2 separate regions of the Homo sapiens genome follow, and region 2 is linked to region 1. A link means that fine-mapping ties the variant in region 1 to the expression of a gene that starts in the linked region. Tissue or cell type: whole blood. Region 1 holds a variant in brackets; the other region holds the start of a gene. All regions are shown on one strand. Distances are from middle to middle.

Region 1 (8,251 bases):
TAGCACCTACCCATCAGACCCCCAGGATGAGATGAAGTAAGAGGCTGAAAACAAGCAAGATGACGAACATGAGCATAGCAGAACCAGAACGCAAGTCATGGCTGGGGGGTGGCAAAAGGAACTGAATACGGAACAGAAACCCTTAACTTCTCTTGCTGCTGCCCAATCCTCTTGTGATTCCAGACAGCCATTTCATTTAAAATCCCTTTCAGAAGCCTGTCATCTTGCATTAGAGCTGGGAGGGGGGTTGTGTTCTGGGTTGGCTGATGATACATGGACTTCTGAGACATGCACCTAGGCGGACTCAACAAATATTAAACATCTGCTCGGTCAGACCCTCTGCTCAACTCTGCACACACAAAAGACAATGAGATGCAGAATGGTGGGTGCCAGGGGCTGGAAGGTGGAGGGTTCAGAGAGTCAGTGTTTAATGGGTACAGAGCTTCATTTGGGGAGGATGAAGAAGTTCTGGAGATGGATAGTGGTTACAGTTGCACAACAATGTGAATGCACTTAATGCCACAGAAGTGTACGCTGAAAAATGGTTATAATGGTAAGTCTTACATATACTTAATCACATTAAAAAACAACAACAACACATTTTTAAAGGGTGGGGGGAAATGAGACAGCCTTCCTCTCCTCCCTCTGAAGAGGCTTTCTTTTGAATTATTCGACTATCTTTCCTGCAGACCAAATATTCTGAAGTCTTCTGCATGTCCTCTTCATCATCACAGTGATCTACCCAGCGGCCCTACATTTAGAAATCTCTATTAGTTCTGGGTACGAGCCCCGTGGAGCTCTGTATTCCCAACATGTGCTCCCCAGTGCCAACCCACCACCTGTTCAGCTCAGGCTGAGGTCACTCACTCTCCCCACCTCAAAAAGACCCAGGTATACGAATAAAAGGTGTCCTCTATTAAGACACAGATCTAGAGGCCAAGTGCTCCTGGAGGGCAGTAACTATCTCTCATACAGACTGTCTCCAGCCCATGAAACAGGCCATATTCCAAAAGTCTCCAAAAACTTTACCAAGAAACGTTATGGATAATGTTTTAGTCCTCAGTAAGCCCACAAAGCCTGTTTACCATAAGTCACAGAAATATCACACATTTACAATTAAAACAGGCAGGCCGGGCACGGTGGCTCACATTTGTAATCCCAGCACTTTGGGAGGCCGAGGTGGGTGGATCACCTGAGGTCAGGAGTTCGAGACCAGCCTGACCAACATGGTGAAACCCTGTCTCTACTAAAAATACAAAAATTAGCCAGGTGTGGTGGTGCGCACCTGTAATCCCAGCTACTCGGGAGGCTGAGACAGGAGGATCTTGAACCTGGGAGGTGGAGGTTGCAGTGAGCCTAGATCGCACCACTGTACTTCAGCCTGGGCAACAGAGCAAGAGTTCATCTCAAAAAAAGCAAAAAGAAACCAAAAAACAGGCAGAAAACAATACCAGTTGCATGTAGTCTAGAGTGCCAGCTACACACTGCCCTCCTGTCCTCCCCTCAGTGCCCACCCCCAAATACCCACCGCCACGTGGGAGCAGGTCTCCCTCCAACAGCATGGCAGCCCAGGTTTTGGAGTCAGACTTGAGTCTGAATGTGGGCTCTGCTGCTTACTGGCTGTCCAACCTCAGGCAAGTTACTTAACTTCCAAGTTAATTTCTGTAAGCTTTGGTTTCTTCATCTTGCAAATGAGGATAATATTGTCCACCTCAAAGGGTTCTTGTGAGGGACAATGAGATTACAGAAGGAAAGAACCTACTGCACAGTAAGTGTTCATTACGGTTCTTATTCCAACCCCAAACACCCCCTTCTGAAATGAATCTGCATCATAATATAAATGACTTTATCACAGCAATCTTTGTTCCAAACAGAAGACAGACAGAAAAAGGACTTACTAGAACCAACCAACTTCCTTTTTTTTCTTTTTCTTTTTCTTTCTTTTTTTTTTGTGACGGAGTCTCGTTCTGTCGCCCAGGCTGGAGTGCAGTGACGCAATCTAGGCTCACTGCAACCTCCGCCTCCTGAGTTCAAGCGATTCTCCTGCCTCACCCTCCCCAGTAGCTGGGATTACAGGTGCCTCCCACCATGCCTGGCTAATTTTTTGTATTTTTAGTAGAGACAGGGTTTCACTATGTTGGCCAGGCTGGTCTCGAACTCCTGACCTCAAGTAATCTGCCTGCCTCAGCCTCCCAAAGTGCTGGGATTACAGGCATGAGCCACTGCGCCCAGCCCAAACCAACTTCTGATCCACATCCTGCCTGTTCCCCCTACCCTGCTTCGACACGTGGGGCTCAGGTAGTTTCCACTGTGAGGAATGACCTTGTTAAGGTTAGGCGGACTCTCTCCACCTCCTCCAAACCTTAGCTACCCAAGGCCAGGAGCCTACCAAGTTCTGCTCTCTTGACTGGGACTGGGAAACAGCGAGCTGTGGAAGGCAGCTCTGCACAGCTCCAGCTCATCCCGCTCAGCTGTGCTGCTTCCCAGCCACTGGTCCACCCTGAAAGGATACACTAGGGCAAGGTGTCTTCTACTGTCTCTGGTCACTCCCCCAGATGTAAGTAATGACATTCATTCACCACACCTCTGTCTTCAAAAAGACAAGTGTAGGATGAAAAGACCCCAGAGAAGAGACGATGTGCTGGCCCCTCTCTAAGACGCCACATGCACCTGCCTATCTTTGCCTCACGCTGCTTAGGCTTTGGGGCACTCTGTCCAACTGTTTTCTTGAAGACTCTTTCCTGAGTCACTTAGAACTAAAGACTAAGTATTGCAAGCTTCAGCCACTTTCTTAAAAATGTGCCTTGAAAGAAAGAGTGGGTGGGTGGTGAAAAGAGAACATGAAAATCTTCCTTACAGTCTGGCTGGGAGCCTACCTATTTTACCTCCAGAGGTATGCTAGCAGACAAAAGCTGCTAGATATGTGCCATGCACAAGGGTAATTTAGAGCCCACATTCCTCTCTCTACCTGGAAAGAAGTACACAGGGGACTTAGGAACTACTTCCTACTTCATGGAAGAAACCTGTCCAGTCCCTCCCCGGGTCTCTCCCATGTCCATAACAAGTTCATGAGAGGTACCAGTGGCAATACGGGTGGAAAAACAGTTCTTCGATGCACTGTCCCAGACTCTGCCAGATGGTTAACATCCCCAATCCCCATGTGCTAAATGCCGTTAGTGCTCCCAAGGCAGTTTTTTTTTTTTTTTGGACAGAGTCTCGCTCTGTCGCCCAGGCTGGAGTGCAGTGGCGTGGTCTAGGCTCACTACAAGCTCCGCCTCCCGGGTTCATGCCATTCTCCTGCCTCAGCCTCCCAAGTAGCTGGGACTACAGGCGCCCACCACCGCGCCCGGCTAATTTTTTTTTGTATTTTTAGTAGAGACGGGGTTTCACCGTGTTAGCCAGGATGGTCTCGATCTCCTGACCTCGTGATCCGCCCGCCTCGGCCTCCCAAAGTGCTGGGATTACAGGCGTGAGCCACCGTGCCCG[G/A]TGCTCCCAAGACAGTTAATCCTCCCTCCTCAGCATTTCCGAACACCCCCTGGAGGCCAGCGGTGCCCTGGCTGAGAACCAGAGTCAGCACCTGTACTGCTTTGTATCCCACCGTGCCCAGCATATACTGGGCACCCTGTACTAATTGTGGATTGAATCTAGTAGGAAAGGTCCAGTCACAGACATACTTAGATCCATGTCTCTTACCAAGTAATTTCTGAACCCCTACTGTGTGCTCAGCATCTTTACAGGGATCAAGAGGAAATATGGATCACAGTCTCTACACATAAGGAAGTGGTAGGAAAAACAAGACCATAAAACATTATTCAATATAAGGCAATATATAAGCCAATGCTAAATTGTAAGGTCTGTGAGAAAGTGGATGATGTGATCAGTAAAGGCTGGCAAAATCGGAGGGGGGGCTTTGTGGGAAAAAAACATAAGTTGAGGTGGCTCTTGAAGGAGGTGGGATTGTCTTCATTCAGCCCTACCGATCCTCAGTCTGTCCCTGCCAGGACCGCTGTTCATAGAAAACTCCTCTAAGCCTGTGGTTCTAGGAGCAATTCGGCAACCCAAGCCCTTCAAATCCCATCCCCAGGTGGTTCCTGGAACAAGACGGTGTGAGAAATTTCCCATTCTTTGTCAGAAGACCAGAGAATATCAGGCCTGCTTTCAGGAGGCCTGCTCATCCCAAAGGCAATGGAAGAAACCACTGGCGGAAGTGCCCGTGCGGAGATGCCCAAGACAGAACCAAAAAGCATTTGGTGCTACGTGTACATACTGAGTCACAGGCTCTAAGTGCTGGGGCCCCCAGTTGTGACCACAGACACTCCCCACGTCGCCTGTCCCGTGTGGCCCTGGAATTTACCTGCTGTGGATGAACCTGAGGTCTCAGCTATCTCCTCTGTCAAAGGTCTTCCTGTCTCCTCCCTCGCCAACTATCACCACGTTTCTTAGGCAGCTCGTCCCCATTTCCTCCATTCATCTCTCTCCAGCCACCCAGGCTCCTCCCACAGGCTGTGCCACCAAACTCTCCTCACAGCCCACCTCACCGTCTTCTACGCTGCCATCCTCCCGACATTCAAGCTGGTCCCAGAGCCTGGCTCCTTCAGGAAGCCCAAGACTTGTGGCTTCCCCAACCCTGTTTCCTTTCAAACACGCAAAATCAGTAACACTCCCCCTCCACACCCCACTCATCCTTTACTTGTATACAATGTAAATGGAGAGTCTTGTCTATTTATATACACTATCTATCCAATGTTAGAAAGAATCCCACTTCCCACAGACCATGCAGCTAAGCTGAGGGCTGGGCCTACTTGTTCTTATTTCCGTGAGACTCACCTACCTTCCAAACTCCAGGCACCCCTTAGGCTAATAACATCTAGGGATACACCCTCCTCTCTCATATACCCCATTCTGAGGAGCCACATCTAAACTACAGACCCAGGACCCAGAGTCCCTCCCCCAGTAAGTAAAAATGAGGATTATATGAGTCATAAGCTCTTTCCATATACATGCTCTTAACTTTTGAGACAAACAAATAAACCATTTTTTTTCCCCTCCCACAGGAAGATTCAGAAGAAATCCTTTTGGAATTAAGCCTGGAGTTTCCACCCCATCCTCAGGCTTCTTGCCCTCAATTGTTGACCAAATGCTTCACCATAAGAATGGCCCCATTCCAGAGTCTCCCAATTCTCACCATCACCAAACTCTACCTGCTGGTTCAACTCTATCTCATCTTTCTGCAGCAATGCCAGTTTAGCTTTCTGACATGATTTACGTCTCTCTCAATCAACTAGATATTTTTGTCTTATAAAAGTTTTGTCTCGTAAAAGCAATTTTTTTTCCATGACACAGCCCTCAGGAGATCCTGAGAACATATGCTCAAAACAACTCTTGTTATATGTGCCCACGGCATGTTAAAGTTTTCACTACAGTCCTTATCATGGCTTGCAATCACACACACACACACACACACACACACACACACACACACACACACATTAATAAATAATTACTTGATTAATGTCTCTCCCTACTACTAGACTGTATCACCACTGTGTCCTCTGTGCCTAGTTCTAGATCTTTCCTCAAACAGAACACAAAATCCTACCCACACGTAGCACGTACAACCTCAGGCTGTCTAGCCACTGGACAAAATCTCCAGGGGCTCTCTTGGGTCACTACAATTCCATCCCTCTTTTCTCTCCTCCCTTTACTATTCCCGCCCTTAGTAAGAACAAAGAGCCTCAAAACCCTTTTTCCATTACCCCCTAGAAGAGCTTCCTATAGATAAGAGAAGCCCAGTCTCAAGTCAAGGACTGGTTGGTTCGGAGGAGAATGGCAAAAGAACTGGAGAGAGCAAATGGCCGTGAGCTGTGGACAGGATCCAAGTCTTCTACCAAGTCACGTTTTTGTATCTTACTATACTCTGTGTGAATTCAAGAAATGCTTTGAGAGTTGACTTATTAACCTGATCACTTTTGTTCTGTCTTCAATCCAGGAAAGAGAAGACTGAGACAGATAGTAGTAAAAAGTAGGTGTCGAAGGGAGTGGGGCTGAAGACCAGGTTTCAAGATGACTGCCCACTGACCACAGAAAATGAGTGTAATTCATGGAAATCAGGTTTAACAAAAATGTCCCAACCTTGAAGGTTGCAGGATATTGAGGAAAACAGTAACAGTTAAGAAAAAGAGTCTAGGCCGGGCACGGTGGCTCGCGCCTGTAATCCCAGCACTTTGGGAGGCTGAGGCGGGCAGATTACAAGGTCAGGAGATCAAGACCATCCTGGCTAACACGGTGAAACCCCGTCTCTACTAAAAATACAAAAAATTAGCCAGGCATTGTGGCGGGCGCCTATAGTCCCAGCTACTCGGGAGGCTGAAGCAGGAGAATGGCGTGAACCTGGGAGGTGGAGCTTGCAGTGAGCCAAGATCGCGCCACTGCACTCCAGCCTGGGCGACAGTGCGAGACTGCGTCTCAAAAAAAAAAAAAAGAGTCTAGGCTTGGAAAGGCATTGCTTTGCTTGGGTGGATGTCCCCAGAGATCTGGTTAAATAGCTTAGTAGAGGACTGAGTACTATATTACATCCTTTCCATAGAATCTGGAACCTGATTCTCAATACATAGACTGCCAATGCTTGGCGACTGACTGGTGGAGGACAGGGGATTATTGATAACTTTCTCTGATTCAACTTTGTCTGGAGACAGAAATATTAGACAGGCAGACTCTCACCGGCTTCTGGAGATGTTCTCCAGTCCAGAATTGCTTTATGTTTCTGGGTTGAGAGGTTACTGCATGCCTTATCTACAGACCTACACCAGAATACAAGCTTATCAAGAGCGGCTGCACACTTCCTGCCATCATGTCCCCTAAATGACAAACAAAGATGGTTTACATGTGCAAGTTGTGTGTGCTACCCTGTCTTAGGCACACAGTTCAATGCGGAAAGGAATGGAGGCCAGATGTGAAGTCAGGATTCTACCCAGCAGAGTTTTAATTGAGCTCCTGGGGCAAGAGTGAGGGGGTGGGCCAGCTGGCTCTCTTGCTGACCTTACTGTTATCTTAACTGTCAAAACCTCCCTGCTGTGTATATCCCTAAGGACTATGGCAAACTGTCCTATCCCATAGCATAAAGGGTGGGGATGTCTCTCCCTCTGTTTGGGGAATGACTGATCACCTAGTTTCAGCCAAGTTCTCAGTAATCTTCCTTCCGTCATTTTGCCAAGGCAGCATTTCACTTCATCTAAATGCCTCGAGCTCTCCAAACAGCCCCATTCCCCTTTTGCAATTTTCCAGGGGAAAAAAGTCACTATTGAATGTCCTTACTTCTGCAGCAGGAGGTCACTCTTCCCATTCTCCTGCCTAAGGCATCTGTCATCAACATTTGGACAGCTAGCACATCAGAACACAGAGGCAGTCCCACGTTGCTCAGCAGCCTAGAAATACATGCCCAGAACTGCCAGCTTTCCGAGTGGTGCTGGCTCCACAGCCGCATGAAGAGAGGAGGAAGGCGAAGACACTTATCCAAAGAACAGACACAACAACACAAAATCATTTGAAAAAGAACATCTCTGTCAGCAGCTACCACCGAGCAACAAGTCCTCCTTGAATGTGCTCCATGCTATGATTTCAATCCAGCGACGCTAAGCATAGCTCCACAGTTTCAAGGACACTGCAGTCAAACTTCGAGCTGGATGGTAAAAAGAAGCTGTTTGATTTACGAAGTGGGTCAACCAAAAGGAGCAATGCAAAAGGAAAGAGGTCAGGCCGGGGCCTGCCCCCTCCTTGTCCCATCCACTTCCACTGATATTTATCCTTTGTGAGAAGCCAAGAGTTCCAAGTCAGAAGGTTCTCCTGGAATATAACCAAGCTTAGACACAGAGGCCCACATTTTCTCTTGGATGATCCTAACTTTACTTCAAGGGCATCGCTCAGCTGGAGGCTTCCAGAACTGTTTACCCCAGACAAGGTCTGATTCTAAAAACATCCCAGAAAAAATATATTCTTAATTGTGCATAAATAAAAGAGGGGCAAAATGAAGCCTAAGAAGCCTGGGGTTTATTGAATACTTTCTCTAAGCAAGCACTGCACTGTGTTGTAAGTGGCACGTGTTGTAAGAGGCACTTCTGCAACAAACGTTTGAGCCCCCATTATGTGCAAAACATGCTTACAGGCACTGGGGATACAAAAATGAACAAAACAGCCAAAATCTTAGCTTTCACCGAACTGTTTGTTGTAGTTGTTGTTGTTGTTTGAAACAGAG
Region 2 (8,000 bases), 150 kb before region 1:
AAACAGCTCTGCACACTCCTATTTACAAGGATATTAGTCCTTTTGAGATGGGGAGACAAATGAAGTAAACAGAGGTTCTCTCCCCTGGATCCTTGCATTGACCTAAATGAATCCTATCTGTCATATAACCTGAGTAGCCAAGGCCTTCCTCTTTAACAACTCTGCTTGCTAAATATTACCTTCTCTAACTATGAGGTATAAAGCAAGCTTGTCCAACCTGCGGCCTAGGATGGCTTTGAAGCAGTCCAACACAAATTCATAAACTTTCTTAAAACGTTGAGATTAGGCCGGGCACAATGGCTCACACCTGTAATCCCAGCACTTTGGGAGGCCGAGGCGGGTGGATCACCTGAGGTCAGGAGTTCAAGACCAGCCTGGCTAACATGGCAAAACCCCGTCTCTACTAAAAATACAAAATTGGCCGGGCGTGGTAGTGGGTGCCTGTAATCCCAGCTACTCGGGAGGCTGAGGCAGGAGAATCACTTGAACCCGGGAGGTGGAGGTTGCAGTGAGCCGAGATCGTGCCATTGCACTCCAGCCTGGGTGACAAGAGTGAAACGGTCTCAATAAATACATAAATAAAATAAAATATTATGAGATTTTTTGCAATTTTTTTTTTGAGACGGAGTTTCTCTCTTGTCACCCAAGCTGGAGTGCAATGGCGCGATTTCGACTCACTGCAACCTCCTCCTCCCGGGTTCAAGTGATTCTCCTGCCTCAGCCTCCCGAGTAGCTGGGATTACAGGTGCCCGCCACCACGCCTGGCTAATTTTTTGTGATTTTAGTAGAGACGGGGTTTCAACATGTTGGCCAGGCTGGTCTTGGACTCCAGACCTCAGGTGATCCACCCACATCAGCCTCCCAAAGTGCTGGGATTACAGGCATGAGCCACCACGCCCGGCCAGTGTTAGTGTACTTTATGTGTGGCCCAAGACAATTTTTCTTCTTCCAATGTGGCCCAGGAAGCCAAAAGATTGGACATCCCCGATATAGAGCTTAAACTCAGTGAGATCTGAGGGTCAAACTATAGCCAATCTCCACCCTCAACCCAGCTTCAATTTCCTTTCAAAGCAGAGGCCTTACCACCTTCTTCAGCTAAAGTGGTTAAGAGAGGACATGGCCCGAGGGAACCTGGGCAGCTTTATAGTCCCATGGAAAGATGGCCCCTGAATCCTTGGGATGAGTAGACTGCTGTAAGGGAAGAGCCAGACCCGAGCCTACCTTGTCCTCACCTCAGGTGTTCCAGGGTGGTCAGCCGATCTCCACCCCCAAGGTTGCCTTCCCAGAGCCTCAGACCCATGCCCCAGCGTTATGGAGATGTCTTCTGGAAGAACCTTAATCAAAGGCCCACGTGAGTAGAGGAGAAAATGGAAACTAACTGGATGTGGTCTTAACTGGATTAAACTACCATAAACCCATATAGCAATAGGCCCTAGTCTGCGGTTAATTTCCCACTGGCTGGTGGACATTGTAGCTCCTAATGACAGAAAGGAGGTCGGGAGAGATTATTAAAGAAGCAATATGGATGGACATGTCCCCTCTGCACTTATAGCCCCCTTTTTGTTCTTCACAGCCCCACTTGGCTGGAGGAGCAGCACATTCCACCCATGCTGGTAAGACAGACCCTCTGCCGTTTAACATTTCTCTGTTAAAATTGCACCCACTGCTGTCCTGTCCCAAGCTCTCCTTATTACCGCTTCCCTCTGTTATTCCCCAACCAGTGCACTGACCAGGCCTTCCTTTCTATGAATCAGTCATCATGTTTTCGAGATCACAGGGGTCTTCCCAAGACCCCAGACTCCCTACCTAGTTCAATCCAAGCTCCCTTGAGAGAGCCAGTTCTTCTTTCTAGCTCTTTTTCCCCATTCTCTGGCACAGAGAGCCACTGGTTGCTCCCAGCTTGGTCTGTATCCTCCTGAGCAGCTCCCACCCCCTGAAATGCTTTGGAGAAGAAAGAAGAGGAGGCCATGTTTGGAAGGAATGCAGCAGCAGGGCCTTGGGGGAGTCCCCGCCCGGGTGAGGGCTGTCACTTACCACCTGGAGGACCTAAGAAGGCGTCAGAGCATCATCAACGAGTAAGGAAGGGAGACATCTGGGTTCTGGGAGTCATGCAGGATTTGGGGGCAGAACAGTTTGAGCTAAGGAAGGGGTTGACAGCTTTGAGGGGAGGTTTGAGGGGAGCTTTGAGGGGAGGTTGCTTGGAAGGAAGCTGTGGGCTTTGGTGTGATTGAAACAGATTTCTGTAATATGGAAAGAAGGAGGGAACTGCAGTAAGGAGGATGAGCCACATGAGCTGGAAGGAGTGGAAACTAGATCACTGAAGACAGGAAAGCAAACCATAGAACTGGAGGACAGTGGGGAGGTTGGGGTCACCTCTGGGTTCCTAGACAATATGCTTCAGTCTGAGGGGAGCAGAAAATTGGGAGTGGAGGGTTAAAGGTCAAATGACAACTCCCTGGAGTCCCAGCAGGAAGTATTTCAGAACAGAAAGGTGAAGAATGGAGAGACAGGAAGCCTGGCCTCCAGGCACTTCTCTCCTCAGCCTAAAGTCTCCACAGACTGAAGAAGGCCCAGTGGGGCAGCTCTGGGGCTGCATCTGAGCCAGTGGTGCTTGGCGAAGAGGGCTGTGGATTCCCCAGCACCAATGAATACCCTGATCTGGAAGAGGAGAGAGCAACCTATCCACAGGAAGAGGACCGTTTTCTCACTCCTGGCAGGGCCCAGGTATTGTTGGAGTGGAACTGGGTGGAGTGAGGGAGTGATGTGGGTCTCTGGTCTTGCATGGAGATGCAGAAGCTGAGAGCCAGGCTGGAGAGCTGGATTTGAGAGAAACAAAAATAACGTAGGTGAGAACCAGAGACTTCGAGGTACCTAAGCTTGGGTACTAGGAAATCTGGAAAGAAGACCTACTTTTCCATTTTCTTTTTCAATTTCTCTCATCTTGACAGCTGCTTTGGTCTCCCTGGAGCCCCCTGGATCAGGAGGAGGCTTGTGCCTCCAGGCAGCTGCACTCTCTGGCCTCGTTCAGCACTGTCACAGCCAGAAGGAACCCCCTTCACAATCCCTGGGGGATGGAGTTGGCAGCGTCTGAAGAGTAAGGAGAAACCACCGATGCCGAGAGGCTAGTGGTGCCCCAGGGACCCAAGACTAGTTCCGTCACTAGAGTCACCCTCATTGCTGACATGAAGGCGTTTCCCCTTCCTTCGTCTCTCCAACTGCCTTTCCCATCCTCTGAACTAGGCATTAACAGCCCCCGTGGGCTCCCATCTCAACCCACCGCTCTCACAGGAGCACCCCAAGTCCTGTTTTCCTCCAGGCCCCGCTCCTGGCCTTGTATTCTCTCTGCTCTGTTATTAAAAAGCAAGCAAGTGGAGCCCGAGTTGTCTTTCTTCTTGGGATGCAGCGATGGAGAGGCCAATGGGGAAGGAGGGCTCCTTTCGCTTTCTCGAGGACCCAGCTACAATGAAGTCGGGCTGGGTCCCCAGACAAGGAGTCTTGTCCGAGGCGAGAAGGGTCCTGCTCCCAGTCCAGCGTTCCTCGCCCGGCCCCTCGGGTTCCAGCACTGGTGGGCTGCCCCCGCCCCGTTCTCTCGAACTGGGAGTCAGTCGGCCGAGCTTCCGCCTCCAGGACCCTGGAATCCTGCCCCTCAGTGCTGCTGCCCTTTTGGGGACTTCCCAGCAGTCTGTCCCTCGGCCTGGCTCAGAGCCCTAGAAGCCGAGTCCCTCTGCCCAGCGCCCCACCCAGAACTCCACGTGTGCTGACCCCAGGTTCCCTTCCTGACCCTCATCCCCTTAATTGGGAGGCCCCGCCCCGTGCGCAGTGACGTTAGACGCCGCTGTCAGCCGGCGCTGGGGGGGGTCGGTGTGGGGTAGAATGGCCGCTGCCGCCGTCACCCGCGGGACCCCGGGAGGTAAGAGCCAGGGCCTCTCGCCCGCCTCTCCGCCCCCGCGCCAGAGGGCGCAGCTCCTCCAGGTCCCGACGCGGAGCGCCGCGCCAGGGACCACCGTCCCTCTTCCCGGTTCGCCCTCACCTCCCGCTTCCGTCCTCCTCCCCCGCGCCAGGGGGCGCCGCTCACCGCAGGGCCCCACGGCGGACCAGCGCGTGCCGGGGACTGTCCCGGAGACCCCCGCACCCGGCACCTGCACTGTCCCTCGCCCACCGCGTGCCCGCGGACTCTGCTCCCGGCTTCTCCAGAACATCCCTCTATGCGGGCGGGACCCTCCCACCTCGGAGGTTCTCCTGGGACCACCACTCCGCCGGGGGGCCGCCCAGAGTGCCAAGCGTCCGATCCGGCGCCGCCCAAGTGCAGCCCAAGGACCCGCTCCCGCTCCGCACCCTGGCAGGCTGCCTAGCCAGGACTGCGCACCTGCGCCCTGGGGCGGAGTCCTTACCCCAACCCCAGCTTCACTGCACATAGCCGAGCCCGACGGGCCTCCTCCCATCTCCATCCTGGACACCTGGCGGAGCCCGTGCTGAGAGCCTCCGCCAGCTCCCATCTGTTCCCCGAGGAGGGCGGGGGGCTCAGGCTGGAGCCAGAGCGGTAGATGGGGTAGGCTAGGCCTGGAGGCCAGGGGAGGCAGAGGCGTTTGGGGAGAGGGAGCTACGTAGAGAGGGCTGTCAGCCGGAGGGTGGGTTGTCCTGAGGGTGGGAATCTGGGTGTCTGGCCCAGATTCTATCAGGTCCTAACCAACCTGGAGGAGAGAATAGGTTAGGTTCAGTTATCAGATCTGCCCTTCCCCTTGGAAAAATCAAACAGAGAAGGAACTCAGGGCGTGTCTTCTAAAGGCCTAGCTTCTACCGGAGGTAGAATCTCCTGCCCTGCCCCCAGGATCCAGGCTCTCTTGCCAAACCATCCTCCAAGGACCGGATGGCCTGAGTCCCAACCCCCAGGACCTGACCCAACCATAGCCCCAGTCTGTGCAAAAGCTCAAGGTTTAGGGCCTCTGAGGCCCAAGCCCTGCCAGTCTTCTCCCCGCTCCCCCACCCCAACCCATTTCTTCCTGCTCACTCTTCCTGTCCAGTCTGCTCACTCATATTGGCTCCGGGCACTGTGTGTTGTTCTCTCTTCTACTGTCACATCACAGTCAGCCCCTCCCTCCCTTTCCTCATCCTTCCCAGATACTATGACCCAGTTCTATACCCACTCCCTACCTCATACTTCTCATCCTGGATTAATGTGGGGGCTTCTGCCATGACCTTGTTCTCTCCCTTCCCAGCACAGACTCCCCCTCCCCCCGGCCCCTCAGGCCGGGGGTGACCTTGCCCCCTGGAGCCCTCACCATGAATACCAAGGACACCACCGAGGTTGCTGGTAAGTTCACAAACCAGGTTCCCAATGTGGCCACAGCCTTTCGTTCTCCCCACGCTTTAGTGGCCCTCTAATTCTTGGATTTTCTGTTCTCCTTAGTGAGGTTTCAGTTTTCCCCAGTGCTCTGTATTGCCTTCAGCCCTTTCCCCTTGGACTATCACAGGGATGCCCCAGGGTAGCACACTAAACCCTCCCTTCTAATTCCCTTTAGAAAACAGCCACCACCTGAAGATCTTTCTCCCCAAGAAGCTGCTGGAGTGTCTTCCTCGCTGCCCGCTGCTGCCTCCAGAGAGGCTACGGTGGAATACAAATGAGGTTTTCTAGGGAGGCTGGGGGTTGGGGCCCAGCAAGACCTAGTAGGCTGGAGGAGGGTGAGTGGGGGGTCTTTCCGTGTCTGTCAACACTCCTAAGTGCAGAGCACCATTCTAAGCTCTTTGGGGATCCTAGGAGAGGTATAAAAACATGGATCTTGGCCGGGCATGGTGGCTCATGCCTGTAATCCCAGCACTTTGGGAGGCTGAGGCGGGTGGATCATCTGAGGTCAGGAGTTCAAGACCAGCCTGGCAAACATGGTGGAACCCCGTCTCTACTAAAAATACAAAAAGCAGCCAGGCGTGGTGATGTACGCCTGTAATCCCAGCTACTCGAGAGGCTGAGGCGGGAGAATTACTTGAGCCAGGGAGGCGGAGGCTGCAGTGAGCTGAGATCACGCCACTGCACTCCAGCCTGGGTGACAGAGTGAGACTCCGTCTCAAAAACAAAAACAAAAAGACATGGATCTTGAAGGAGCCCTCTTTTCTGTGGCATAGCCACCTGGGTAAAAACAAAAGCTACTGCCAGTAAAGTATTCCTTACATACTGGGCACCGTGCTAAACATTTGGCCTGCCTTGTCTCATTTAATCCTCTAACGGTTCTATAGAGCAAGCCCTGTTATTGCTCCTATGTTATTGATGAGGAAACTGATTTACCTCATAGTTTATCTAACTTACTCCAGGGCCTTTTTTTTTGAGACGGAGTCTCGCTCTTGTTGCCCAGGCTGGAGTACAATGGCGCGATCTTGGCTCACTGCAACCCCCGCCTCCTGGATTCAAGTGATTCCCCTGCCTCAGCCTCCCAAGTAGCTGGGATTACAGGCATGTGCCTCCACGCCCGGCTAATTTTTGTTTGTTTTTTTTTTGAGATGGAGTCTCGCTCTGTCGCCCAGGCTGGAGTGCAGTGGCGCGATCTCGGCTCACTGCAAGCTCTGCCTCCCAGGTTTACGCCATTCTCCTGCCTCAGCCTCCGGAGTAGCTGGGACTACAGGCACGCCACCACACCTGGCTAATTTTTGTATTTTTAGTAGAGATGGGGTTTCACTATGTTGGCCAGGCTGGTCTCGAACTCTAGACCTAGTGATCCGCCCATCTCGGCCTCCTACAGTGCTAGGATTACAGGCATGAGCCACCACGCCCGGCTGGAACCTTTGTTATTAACCACCACTGATACTGGCTCTTTCTGGAGGAGGCACAGTCCTTGTGTTACACATTTTCTGTATTCTGCATACTTACTGCCTTGTATGTAGTTGGTTGTTGATATTTATCAATTTGATGTCAGAAGAGGACTGTCAGTAAAACGATGCGTGTATGTGTGTATGTGTGATTGTTGTAAGTGCTATAGAGCGTTTAGGAAGGTCCAGTGTGGTCAGCAGGGCTTCATGGAGCATCTGAAAAGGGGTTTGGTTTATAGAATGGCTATGATTTCCAGATATGGAGAGGTGTGCACATGGTACCTGCCTTGTAGGGCACTAACATGCAGGAGGTAACTATTCAAAGCATGTTCAGGAAGGAATCAATGGATCCATCTGGCAGGAATTGTAGGAGCAATATGGGTAAATAGTGGGAACAGTGAAAGTTTGATCCCTTGTTGGGAAGAACCTTGGAGTCAGGCTAAAGAATCTGAAACTCCTGCCAGGCACAGTGGCTCACGCCTGTAATCCCAGCACTTTGGGAGGCTGAGGCGGGTGGATCACGAGGTCGGGAGATCAAGACCATCCTAGCTAACACAGTGAAACCCCGTCTCTACTAAAAATACAAAAAATTAGCCGGGCGTGGTCGTGGGCGCCTGTAGTCCCAGCTACTCAGGAGGCTGAGGCAGGAGAATGGCATGAACCCAGGAGGAAGAGCTTGCAGTGAGCCGAGATGGCGCCACTGCACTCCAGCCTGGGTGACAGAGCGAGACTCTGTCTCAAAAAAATAAATAAATAAATAAATAATCTGAAATTCCTGGCAGTGTCAAACCACTGAAATTTTTTGAGTCAGGAAGGGGCACAGAGGCCAGGAGTGGTGGCTCATGCCTGTAATCCCAGCACTTTGAGAGGCTGAGGTAGGCGGATCACCAGAGGTCAGGAGTTCAAGACCAGCATGGCCAACATGGTGAAACCCCGTTTCTACTAAAAATACAAAAATTAGCTGGGCACGGTGGCAAGTGCCTGTAATCGCAGCTACTCTGGAGGCTGAGGTAAGAGAATTGCTTGATCCTGGGGGGCGGAGGTTGCAGTGAGCTGAGATCATGCCATTGCACTCCAGCCTGGGTGACAGAGTAAGATTCTGCCTCAAAAGAAAAAAAAAAAAGTCTGGGCACGGTGGCTCACGCCTGTAATCCCAGCACTTTGGGAGGCCAAGGCGGGTGGATCACCTGAGGTCAGGAGTTCGA

Evidence for each region. PIP is the estimated chance that this variant, and not a neighbour inherited with it, causes the effect.
Region 2: CAMTA2 starts here. The variant in region 1 is fine-mapped to the expression of CAMTA2 in whole blood (INTERVAL, PIP 0.93).

The regions. Positions count from the first base shown.
Region 1 is chr17:4,837,178-4,845,428 of GRCh38, reverse strand. All of the region lies in intron 1 of MINK1 (misshapen like kinase 1), which reads right to left. Among named protein-coding and RNA genes, the nearest start is that of MINK1, 8.0 kb to the right of the region's middle. The variant G/A (reference allele first, on the strand shown) is at 3,487.
Region 2 is chr17:4,983,503-4,991,502 of GRCh38, reverse strand. CAMTA2 (calmodulin binding transcription activator 2) reads left to right here and starts at 3,828. Exons shown (of 23, transcript NM_015099.4): 1 at 3,828-3,910; 2 at 5,217-5,311; 3 at 5,520-5,623. The coding sequence starts at 5,281. INCA1 (inhibitor of CDK, cyclin A1 interacting protein 1) reads left to right here. Exons shown (of 7, transcript NM_001394789.1): 3 at 1,238-1,351; 4 at 1,574-1,613; 5 at 1,879-2,075; 6 at 2,559-2,724; 7 at 2,949-3,373. The coding sequence ends at 3,098. CAMTA2-AS1 (CAMTA2 antisense RNA 1) reads right to left here and starts at 3,759. Exons shown (of 3, transcript NR_187235.1): 1 at 3,278-3,759; 2 at 2,911-3,087; 3 at 1,558-2,816. RefSeq lists a silencer at 3,809-4,348.